Regions from separate parts of the Homo sapiens genome. Here region 1 is linked to region 2. The links come from fine-mapping of genetic effects on gene expression. A gene starts in region 2. The other region holds a variant in brackets. All regions are shown on one strand. Distances are between the middles of the regions.

Region 1 (5,373 bases), 34 kb before region 2:
GTCAGTAGCAAAGCACTAGTGTATATATATATATATATATATATATTTTTTTTTTTTTTTTTTTTTTTTTTTCAGGTGGAGTTTCGCTCTTATTGCCCAGGCTGGAGTGCAATGGCACAACCTCGGCTCACTGCAACCTCCACCTCCCGGGTTCAAGCAATTTTCCTGCCTCAGCTCCCAAGTAGCTGGGATTACAGGCATGCGCCACCACGCCCGGCTAATCTTGTATTTTTAGTAGAGACAGGGTTTCTCCATGTTGGTTAGGCTGGTCTCGAACTCCCGACCTCAGGTGATCCGCCCGCCTTGGCCTCCCAAAGTTCTGGGATTAGAGCCGTAAGCCACCACGCCCAGCATATCCAATCTTCTAAAGCACAAGACTCAGGACTGGTCAGGAAGTATTTAAGCCAGTGGTTCCCAAATCCTATAGATCCTCAGGAAGATGACCTTGGAAGTCCTAGACATTCTGAATTGGAATCTGAACCTGTATTCTCAAAGATTGCTGGGTGAATCTGATGGCTGGGGGAGTGGAGTGGGAGTTAGTTGGTAACAAATCCAGTTTATGGCATAGCCTGCTTGACCATGAGGTTATGAGACATGAGAACATTTTGCAAAATGGGCACAGAGTGGAGAGAGAAACTTCATAGTTCTGCTTCCAGCTCAAAGACCTAGTTGTGGGACTCAAACCAAGGCTTTGCAGCCAGTTCCTATGCATAGCAGGGCTGTGGAATTGGTGGGTGCCCCCCAAGCCTCTCTGAGGACTGTGACTTTACTATCTGCTGAGATGTTCCAATAGATAGGTTATCAGCTCCTGAGATACCCTTCCACTCTCTGAATACAGCCGCAAGTCAATCAAGTCGATAGAGAATTCACAGCTGGAAGAGCTCAGTTCTTCTCTCTGCTCCATTTCACACTCGGTGTGTTAAAGGGATACATGTGGGGAGATTTCCTTTAGCAGATCCTGCTCTCAAGTTGATGGACTCACCGCTATTGCTCAGGGACTGCAATGTACCTTTCATACCCCAATGTAGGAAAGCAAACCTCAGGGGTAGGCCCTGCTCCCCTCCAGGCCCAGCCTCATTCCCCTCCCAACTTGACAGGGGCAGTCTGCTCACCTCCACAGTGGGTGAAGCCATACAGGGTGTACCCTCGGTTGCAAGCACAAGCAAATGTGCCAGGGTGGTTGATGCAGCTGTGGTCACAGGTCCTATCCAAAGAGCACTCATCCACATCTGTAATGGTCAAAGGGAGAGGGGAGCTGAAACCCACTCTGAGGGATGAGTGAAGAATAGGTTTATGATAAATACCAGTTGCTGACCAACACCAAAAACAATACACACAGAGTAAAAAACATTATCTATCCATTTTCCTCACTCACTTGTGTTAAAGAAAGTGTGGAGCAGCCCACAAGAAGTATACTGACTGCCACGGCCCTCATTTCCACATTCTGTTGCAAACTGCACTTCCCTCAAAACTCAGTTGGTCTCTTTCACCCATGCGTACTTGCAGGGCTAATTTAAAATGTTTAAATGAAGCCAAATGAGATAACATACCTAAAAAGGGTTTTGTAAGCTACAGGTGCTAGCTATGCATTTTTATTGTCATATAACTATTAGTAAAACAGCAATATTAATTTATTAACTACGGCAAATTGAAAGGAGAAAACACTTGGTTTGGAGGTAAATCTAGTTCCCATCCCTTTCTTATTTTCTCAGAATTAGTCTTCTGGCCCCAAGAGGCCAGTTAATCCTAGGTTTTAATGCCCTCTGCACTGAAAGAATGCATCAATACTAATATCCTCACTAATTTTCTCTTTGCAGGCCCTGAAATGTGGTAGTTCAGCTCCACATTGGATGCTTTTGGCCGATGCCTTGGTTTTGCTCCTCCCCTATGTGCCAGTCCTATGAGTCTGCTAGCCTCCTGGTTCAGTGTGGAAGCCTCCTTGGCTGCAGCGGGGGTCATGCACAGCAGCCTCAGGAGGCTGCATTTGTCCATCTCAGCATCTCTTTCCCTGGGTCTGGCCCTCAACCTCTTTCTTGTAGGCTGGAATTTGAGTGCTTCACTCCCTGAACTCTGGAGGATTTTAACATAGTTACGACTTGTGTCTCCAAATGGATAAACCAGGACCAGTGCCGCACTCAGTCGAAGCCAACTAGACCACTGCTAGACCACTTTTTTCAACACCGAGTGTGCCATGAGAAACTATGTTAATAAAAGGCAAAAATGTGGAAGGAACAGGAAGAATGAAAAAGCAAAATAAAAAAGGGCAAATTCTTGCAAAACCTCTTCATCCCTAGCTTTTCCCAGAAATCCTGGCATTTCTTCAGTAAATTTGTTCTGTGCAAGTATTTGTTCTACCAAGACCGATCAGTGAAAAATGAGAAAAACCTAGTTTCTTCCCTAGGAATTGATGCCATTTTATGAAATCTGTTATTAATATCAGCCAGTTGTCGAGAAAGTGCACTTGTTCAGTAGCTGACTTTGGCTGCTCAGTATGGGCTTTTGCTTTGCCAAAAATAATGAGATCACTTTTCTAATTCCTTTTTAATGTGTTTACACAGCTTCAACAGTATTGCCTGCTCTATACACTAGGAAACATTATGTGGAACAGCAAATTTGCTTTCCAAGTCAAACTGAAGAAAACCACACAATAATTATCTAGAATTAACTTACTGAATTTAAAGAGGAATATACTTGAACTGCCTGACAAATTATGCATTAAGAACAAACCAAGAGAAAAACAAAACAAACATCACACCATAATATTTTTGTAAAAAGGTAATGCTACATCTTTGTTATCTAAGATGAAATCTGATACTCTGATTTTTATTTAATTCTGATTTTTTTTTTTTTTTTTTTGAGATGGA[G/A]TCTCGCTCTATCCCCCAGGCTGGAGTGCGTGGGCATGATCTCGACTTACTGCAACCTCTGCTTCCTGGGTTCAAGCGATTCTGGTGTCTCAGCCTCCTGAGTAGCTGGGATTACAGGTGCCCGCCACCGCGCCCTCCACCATGCCCCCACCTAATTTTTGTATTTTTAGTAGAGACGGGGTTTTGCCGTGTTGGCCAGACTAGTCTCAAACTCCTGGCCACAAGTGATCGACCTGCCTCAGCCTCCCAAAGTGCTGAGATTACAGTGTGAGCCACCACACCCAGCCTAATTCTGAGATTTCTAACAAAATAAATTAGTCCTTATTCCCAAAAATGGAGCAAGAATACATTACAGCACATCTTTCCTGAGAACTTCTTCTGCATATCAAAGGGAAGGTGCTCATCTAAAAATAGAAAACAGCTTTCCCCCACCCAAAACAGCTGCTAATACTAACAACAACTGCTACCTAGAGAAGTCTCCTTGCTGCAGCCCTTATATGGGAAGGATGTGTTTGAGAAGGGGTCTGAAATCCTCTCTAAGGATCAACAAGCATCTCCTCCCCACAAGCCCTCCCCCTCCCTCTCTGCCTTCCCTCTCTTCAAAGATCAAAGGCTGATGGTTTAAAGCAAGTGCTGGGCCAGGTGCGGTGGCCCACGCCTGTAATCCCAGCACTTTGGGAGGCCTAGGAGGGCGGATCACCTGAGGTTAGGAATTCGAGACCAGCCTGGCCAACACAGTGAAACCCTGACTCTACTAAAAATTCAGAAATTGGCCAGGCGCAGTGGCTCACACCTGTAATCTCAGCACTTTGGGAGGCCGAGGCAGGCAGATCATGAGGTCAGGAGTTCAAGACCAGCCTGACCAACATAGGGAAACCCCGTCTCTACTAAAAATGCAAAAATTAGCCGGGTGTGATGGTGCGCACCTGTAGTCCCAGATACTCAGGAGGTTGAGGCAGGAGAATCGCTTGAACCTGGGAGGCGGAGGTTGCAGTGAGCCAAGATAGCTCCACTGCACTCCAGCCTGGGTGACAGAGCGAGACTCTGTCTCAAAAAAAAAAAAAAAAAAAAAAAAAAAAAAAAAAATTCAGAAATTAGCTGAGCATGGTGGCAGATGCCTGTAATCCCAGCTACTCGGGAGGCTGAGGCAGGAGAATTGCTAGAACCCAGGAAGGCGGAGGTTGCAGTGAACCAAGATGATGCCACTGCACTCCAGCCTGGGCAACAGAGTGAGACTCTGTCTGTAAATAAATAAATAATTAAAAAATTAAAAAAACAAGTGCTATAAGAAAGAGACCAATTGGTACATAATCTTGATCATGGGTTAACTCCAAGTTTTTGCTAGGGAGGTATGTTAACTAAATCTACAGACTTTGCCACCAACTTTTGTGATAAATTCAATAACATTAAAGGAAATTTTAGAAAAGGAAAATTATTCATAATCTCAACACCCCACTGGAACCCCATTTGCATTCTGTTTTCCATTCCATTTCTAGCAGTGAGCTCTGCTGTCATCACATCGATGGGTTCTTTAAGGTGTTCTCTAACCATTAACAGCTTAATTTCCAAATACACCTGTGAGCTACATCAGTGTTTTTATTTTACCTAATAGATGAAATGAGTGAAGCCTAGGAAGGAGATTGGATTAGTGGCCCTGTCAAGAAGCCTGATAAGCCAGTCTCTGCCAGGAGGGTGCTACGTTCTCTCTGCTCCAACCTGTGGGCCATTGCGCAGCACAGCTATGTTTTCAGCACATACCTTGGCAAGACTTCTCATCTGTTAATAATTTAAATCCTTTCTTGCAGCCGCAGTCAAAACTGCCCACGATGTTTTTGCAGAAATGATCACAACCTCCATTGCGGGTCTGGCACTCATCAATATCTGCAACAGGAAAGCATTGGGCATATCAGAGAGCAATACTTGCCTCATTTCCCACAACTCCCTGAAGGGCCATTGTGTGTGTTCATTAGTCTCTGAAATTAAGAAAAAGACTCACAAAAGCATTTAAGAATGTTTGCTGATGTTTTTAACCTTATACATGTTTTCTTATCTGGCTTAACCAGTTTTGAAAGACAAGTGTTTCATCGTCTTGAGAACGCTGACTTATGATGCCCTTGATTGGCATTAAGGAAACAAACTCTGGGAAAGAATGATGACGTCCTGTTATATTCTCATCTTTGTATTGCTCTCTCAAGGTAAGATGGGTCTCTTTAGTACACTATGTATTCAAGTTTAATGATTAAAGCTATAAAGGACTAGAGCATTTGTTTTGGCAAATTACACAATGATCAAATAGCCTCAATGTTTTAAAATGATTCCTGATACTCAATCTTATCTTTTCCCAGTTTCGTCTGGCAATTGGTTATCTACTTTTTATCATGCTAAAGGGCTAATCCTTTGTACTCTTGCCCATGAAATATGAGCAAGTCATTGGGGTCGCTCTTCATCAGTAAAAGTTAATGGTACAGTTATTCATTAAGTCCTCTGGATAATCATCTTGACTGTTATT
Region 2 (5,373 bases):
TTTTTCGAAGTGGAAAGAGACTTGGAAGGACTTTCTTACTCATTGTGTAGCTTTAGATCCTGCAAGTATTCAGAAGATCAATTCCCATGGGAGTTAAGCCCAAGTTCTAAAGAGTTTAAAACCTCTCGAAGAGGAAGGGGCCACCAACATACTTGTCAAGGTTGGGTCCAGGAGCAAGGAGGGATACTCAGAGATGAGTTCAGTGCTCCTCATCTAATTTCTTCCTGCAAGGGATGACTATAGACAGTGGGATTTCTCACTCATCCAAAGAAGGACAGCAGCAGGCTGAGTAAATATGAGAAACGTGGGGTTGGGGACAGAGCTAGGGGTGGAGACCTGACTTTCTTTCACTTGCAGGCAACTTGTGTGATCATGGCCACAACTCCTCTGGCCCTCAGTGTCCCCATCTGTGAAATGAGTAATAGCATTGGCCCAGAGCTACCTGAATAGCCCAGTCAGCTCCAATGTGTCATGATTTCCATCTCCAGGAACAGCCTCGAGTGTCCAGTCTCTGGCCAGCTATGAACTTCACAGTTCATGACTCTAGTCCAGATTATAAAATGGCAGAGTCCAAACCACAGGTTCTCAGACCTGCAGCTCTATGGGCTAAAATGCCCCTCTGCACACATCTCTCCAGAGTGAACCTGTAACTCCAAACGAGGAAGGTCCTTGGTGTACTCTGAAGCTTGGCACGTCACAATGCCAAACATTGTGGCCAAAGCCATAAACAGGATGGAGCCTCCTGAGCTGGTAGGGGAGGGCAGGACTCTCTAGCACTCAGACTTCAGGGCAAAGGTACAAACCGCCCCAGGGAGGTGCAGGATCAGCCCTGCTCTGGCAGGCATGGCTCTCCTGATCAGCATGGATGTTTACTTTCTGCCCCAAAACTGAGTGGGACCCAAAGATACTAACACATCTCTTTTCTTTTCCAGAAGCTAGACAAAAGGACATTTCAGAGCCAGATAAAACTGTGTGAGCAGCTCTGGGGAAGACCTAATGTTTCCAGTCCAAGATCTGAAATATATTTCAGAGAGCAGGTGATGTGATTCAGGGGCTGGGGGAAAGGGAGAGGAGGGGCAGTACTTTTACCAACATAAGTGGCCACTGCAAGAGCTAAGGAGGTAGGAGCTTCCCTACAGTCCCCCCACATGGTCCCCAAGGCACTTACCCTCACACTGCCTGCCTTCCCCTTGGTAGCCAGGCTTGCAGGAGCACTTGTAGGAGGTGGGTGTGTTCTGACACAGGGCGTCGGCATGGCAGTCATCTAGCCCTTGGGCACACTCATCTACATCTGCAAAAGAGCACAGCTGACACCTGGTACAGGCTCCCAGGCCATGTGTGATCTGGCCTCGGCCCTGTCTGGCATCATCCTCACCAGCCCACCCCGCTTCACTCCTCACAAGCTACAGCTGCTTGGGATCCCTGGGATAAACCAAACTGTTTCTGGGTCCCTGTTTCCAGGAACAGCCCGGACACTCTACGTGAAATTACCCCCACCATCACCTACTGGCCTTCAGGACTTAGCTCAAATCCACCTCCTCCAGGAAGCCTGCCATGACCCCCATTGTAGCTGCCCTCACCAAGTGCTCGCATATGTATGGCTTTGCATGCACACATCAGGCAGGGTTGTCACTGTTTTCCTTCCTCTCTCTCCACTAGACAATGTCTTGACAACAGACTGCGTCTGTGTCCCTTATGCCAAGCCAGCGCAGTACCTGGCATGTGAGTAGGCAATAGTACCTACATGCCCGCTAAAGGAGGAAAGGACCAAACGGACAGACAAGCTCTGAACACCAAGCAGCTGTCTGTCAGCTTTCTCGGAGCTCAGAGCAAGCTTGTCCAACACAGCCCGTGGGCTACGTGCAGCCCAGGACAGTTTTGAATGCGGCCCAATGCAAATTCATAAACTTTCTTAAAACATTATGAGATTTTTTTTTTATTTATTTATTTATTTTTTTTTTTTGCTCATCAGCTGTCGTTTGTGTTGGTATATTTTATGTGTGGCCCAATTCTTCTTCTTCCACTGTGGCCCAGGTAAGCCAAAAGATTGCACCCCGCTGGTTTAGAGTATTTATGGGAAGTCTGCCCCGGGATCGGAGCAGATGTCATCCAGGGCTCTCAGATGCTGCGAAGCGGGGATGGTGTCCCCATGGCCGGCCCCCTGCACTCCCACCCCTGCCCATCCTCTCAACCTGGAAACCCGCCTTGGCAGAAGTATTTCCTGGGTTGACACTACTCCAGGATATTAATTAAAAACAAAAGCATTTTGAAAGTATTGCAAGTCCAGTAAGCACAGCACGTCCAGAGTCCTCTCTGGAAACCAAAGTTCTCTGCTGAAAACCTAGGCTTGTTGCTGCTTCAGGGTAATTCCCAGATCGGAACAGGCGCTGTTCCGCTGACAGAAAAGTCTCTGGAGCCCACCCCGAAGCCATCAGCAGAACTTGCCGGCCCCCAAAGAAAGAAACGGCAAAGCTGCCACCGCCTCGCGGATGTGCCCGGCCCGGCCCTCAGTTTCCCCGCCTACGCTGAGGCGCGGGACCCCAAGGCCAGGGTCCGCACCCTCCTGCCTGCTCGCCGGCGACGGTCTGACTAGCAGGCGCTCTGGAGGCATCCGGACCGGGGCGGGAACCGTCAGCAGCTCCGGGTCCGAGGCCGGGCCGAAGGACTCAGGGCCCCAGCGGTCGTGGCGCCTTGGCCCGGCCGGCGGGTGAGGTCCCGGGGGGAGCAGAGGCCCCCGCGGAGCTGCAGCCGCCAGCCCCGAGCCCCGCGCGCCCGGCTCTGGACTCCGCCGGGGACCTAAACACTCTTCCTGGCCCTGCCTGCTGTGCCAGGTGCGCCCCCGCGGCCGGACACTCACCCTCCTGCGGCCCCGCGGCACGGCCCCGACCCGGCGGGACGGCCCCCGCCAGCAGCAGCAGTGGCGGCAGCAGCAGCAGCAGCAGCAGCACCGCCCAGGCCGCCCCGGGACGGTTGCGGCCCGCGACCCCCATGGATGGCTCAGCGGTTGCGGGCAGAGGCGGCGGAGTGCGGGCGGTGGCGGCGGCGGCGCGGGGAGGTGTGCGCGGACGCCCTGCCCGCTGCCGCTGCCACCCCCGGCCCGGCCCCGCCCGCCCCCCGAGCCCCGGCCTCATTTTCACACGGTCCCTCCCGGGCCGGGGCGGGAAGCGCAGGCGGGAGCAGTGCCGCCCCGCCCGGCCTCCTCCCGTCCCCTCCCCGGCCTCGGGTGGAGGGGGCGCGGCCGCGGTGGCCCGAGCGCGGCTGTCAGCCTGGCGGGGCGGCAGCACCGTGCCTCGCGCCCCGCGCAGCCCTGGCACCCAGCCCGCTGCCCCCCGCATCCCCGCTCCGCTCCAACGCTCGGAGCCCTCGGTGCCGCGCCTGTTCCAGTGTGTTACAACTCGACCCAGGCCCTCATGTGAGGACAAACAGCCCTTCTAGATTGAAATATTCGGGGTCAGGGCGCCCAGAAAGTGTTCCGTATAGTCCCCAAACCCCAAAGCCATCTTGGGGCTTTCCACGTGGGAGGTGGGAGGTGGGAGTGGAAGGAATTGGGGGTGACTTCCAATTCGGGAAAACAGCTGTTTGAATGGAGAAGGTGACCCTGGCTTCTCTGCCCACCCCAGCACACCCTCTGCACCCTTCTCCACACTGCCCACCCCAGGCCCTCTGGGATCCTCCATCCCACAGCCCTGAGGGCACTGGTCCACTTGTCCCACTGTGGGGCACACTGGGCCTAGAATCCCTGCAAGCTACTTATGTATATCTCAGGGCAGCCTAAGGGGAAGGGGGCTAGAGGTCAAAGGTGAGCCACCAGAGACAACAGACAGCAGCCCCGACTTTGCCGGAGTACAGGTGGCATTTACGATCACCTGAACTCATAAACATCAGGTCTGGCTAGCTTCAAACACAGGCAGGGCCTAGCACCTAGCCTTCCATGAAAGACAGTCCTTGCAAGGGAACAGGTACACAGGGTCTTCCCATATCACACTTGACACGGATGGCTGGAGCCCAATACACCCACCATCACTCCAGGAACAAATATAGTAACAATTTCCGGACGCAACCAAACATCACACTTAGGGATAGTAATGTTCTTCACTGAGCTTCTCCGTATTTATTCAATTTTCTCCTGCGATTATATACATACACATATGTATATATGCAGGCACACGCACGCGCGCACACACACACACACCATTCCTTTGGAGATCAGAAAAAAAATAGATGTCACCAAAAAATCCCCACCTAGCTCATGCACAAAAACTCTTATGTCTTCTTGGGGCCTATCCACAGCCCAGAGCTCCCAGCCTCTGCACCCTCAGTACCCACTGTCTGCCACCCCAGCCCCCGAACATGCCCACGGGGGCCTGCCTCTTTGGGCTGTGGCTAGTGCAGCTGCTTGATGGAGCTATCTGAGAAAATAACTTTTCTGTAGTTGTTTTTCTTTTGACCCTTTCAGTGAAGGCAGGCAGGTTGCGTCCCTCTTTCTGTCTGCGCCTCCCTCCCACTCCCTTTTGTTTGGTGCTGAGAGAGACACTCAGCTATTTCTGGTCATAAGGGTGGTTTTTACACATTTGTAAATCTTCAGTTAGTGAAACGTTCTCTCCACCTTTGTCTTTGTGTCCTTAATGGTAGCCATAAATTACTGCCTTCTTTTCTCTCCACTGCATCAGGCTTCATTGCTTTTGAAATGATCAAAGTTATTTCTTTTAAAATCCAACTAGAAACTGCCCATTGTGTGGCACAGACCTCTTTAGCTCCAGTTAAAGCATATAAATACATAAAGCTGCCCATTAAACTCTAGGGGGAGCCTCCTGCAGCGCCCTTGTGCCTGGCAAAGAAATCACACATGTGCTATTCTTCCCCTTTACCTTTCCCTAACTTGATCTTTCAGTAAGGACATAAATTAATAATGACAAGAATCAGCGCCTTTTTGCCTAAGACTGTCAGCTTTTGTCATGTTTCCCAGAAAAGTCCACCACTGGCACAGATCTCAAAAAATGTTCTGTATCCTATTTTGTTTGCGCTGACATCCTTACAAACGTGCTTTCAGCTGTTGGCTCCCAGACTCCTGGGCAACCTTTTTGACACTTGAGATTAAAGTCAATATGGCTTACAACCGGGAATTTCCACAGGGGGAAGCTCCAGGGGAAAACTGTGTCCAAATGTCAGTGTTTTTGGTGTCAGGAGGAACTTGGTTGGCTCTACTCTGGCTGCAGGCTGCCCTCTATTCTGCAGCTGAGGTCCCCACAAACTTCTCAGAAAGGCCTCAGACACCGTCCCTGGACTGAGGCTAAAGCTCCCTCTTCCTCTCCCTGTCTCCTCTCCACAGGCTGAGAGGCCATGAACCAGGCCTCAGGGGTGCGAAGAGGCAGT

Alleles and levels. Alleles are on the strand shown, and positions count from the first base shown. SD is a standard deviation of normalised expression in the study named.
In carriers of allele A in region 1, the expression in thyroid of the gene that starts at base 3,061 in region 2 tends to be higher than with G alone (moderate effect, 0.47 SD a copy in GTEx).

What was found.
Region 1: its variant is fine-mapped to the expression of SCUBE2 in thyroid (GTEx, PIP 0.90).

The regions. Positions count from the first base shown.
Region 1 is chr11:9,054,681-9,060,053 of GRCh38, forward strand. SCUBE2 (signal peptide, CUB domain and EGF like domain containing 2) reads right to left here. Exons shown (of 23, transcript NM_001367977.2): 9 at 4,623-4,745; 10 at 1,113-1,229. It overlaps NRIP3-DT (NRIP3 divergent transcript), which reads left to right. Exons shown (of 3, transcript NR_183663.1): 2 at 4,928-5,059. Among named protein-coding and RNA genes, the nearest start is that of MIR5691, 33 kb to the right of the region's middle. The variant G/A (reference allele first, on the strand shown) is at 2,865.
Region 2 is chr11:9,088,539-9,093,911 of GRCh38, forward strand. SCUBE2 (signal peptide, CUB domain and EGF like domain containing 2) reads right to left here and starts at 3,061. Exons shown (of 23, transcript NM_001367977.2): 1 at 2,858-3,061; 2 at 1,169-1,291. The coding sequence starts at 2,990. It overlaps MIR5691 (microRNA 5691), which reads right to left and starts at 1,841; the gene lies at 1,774-1,841.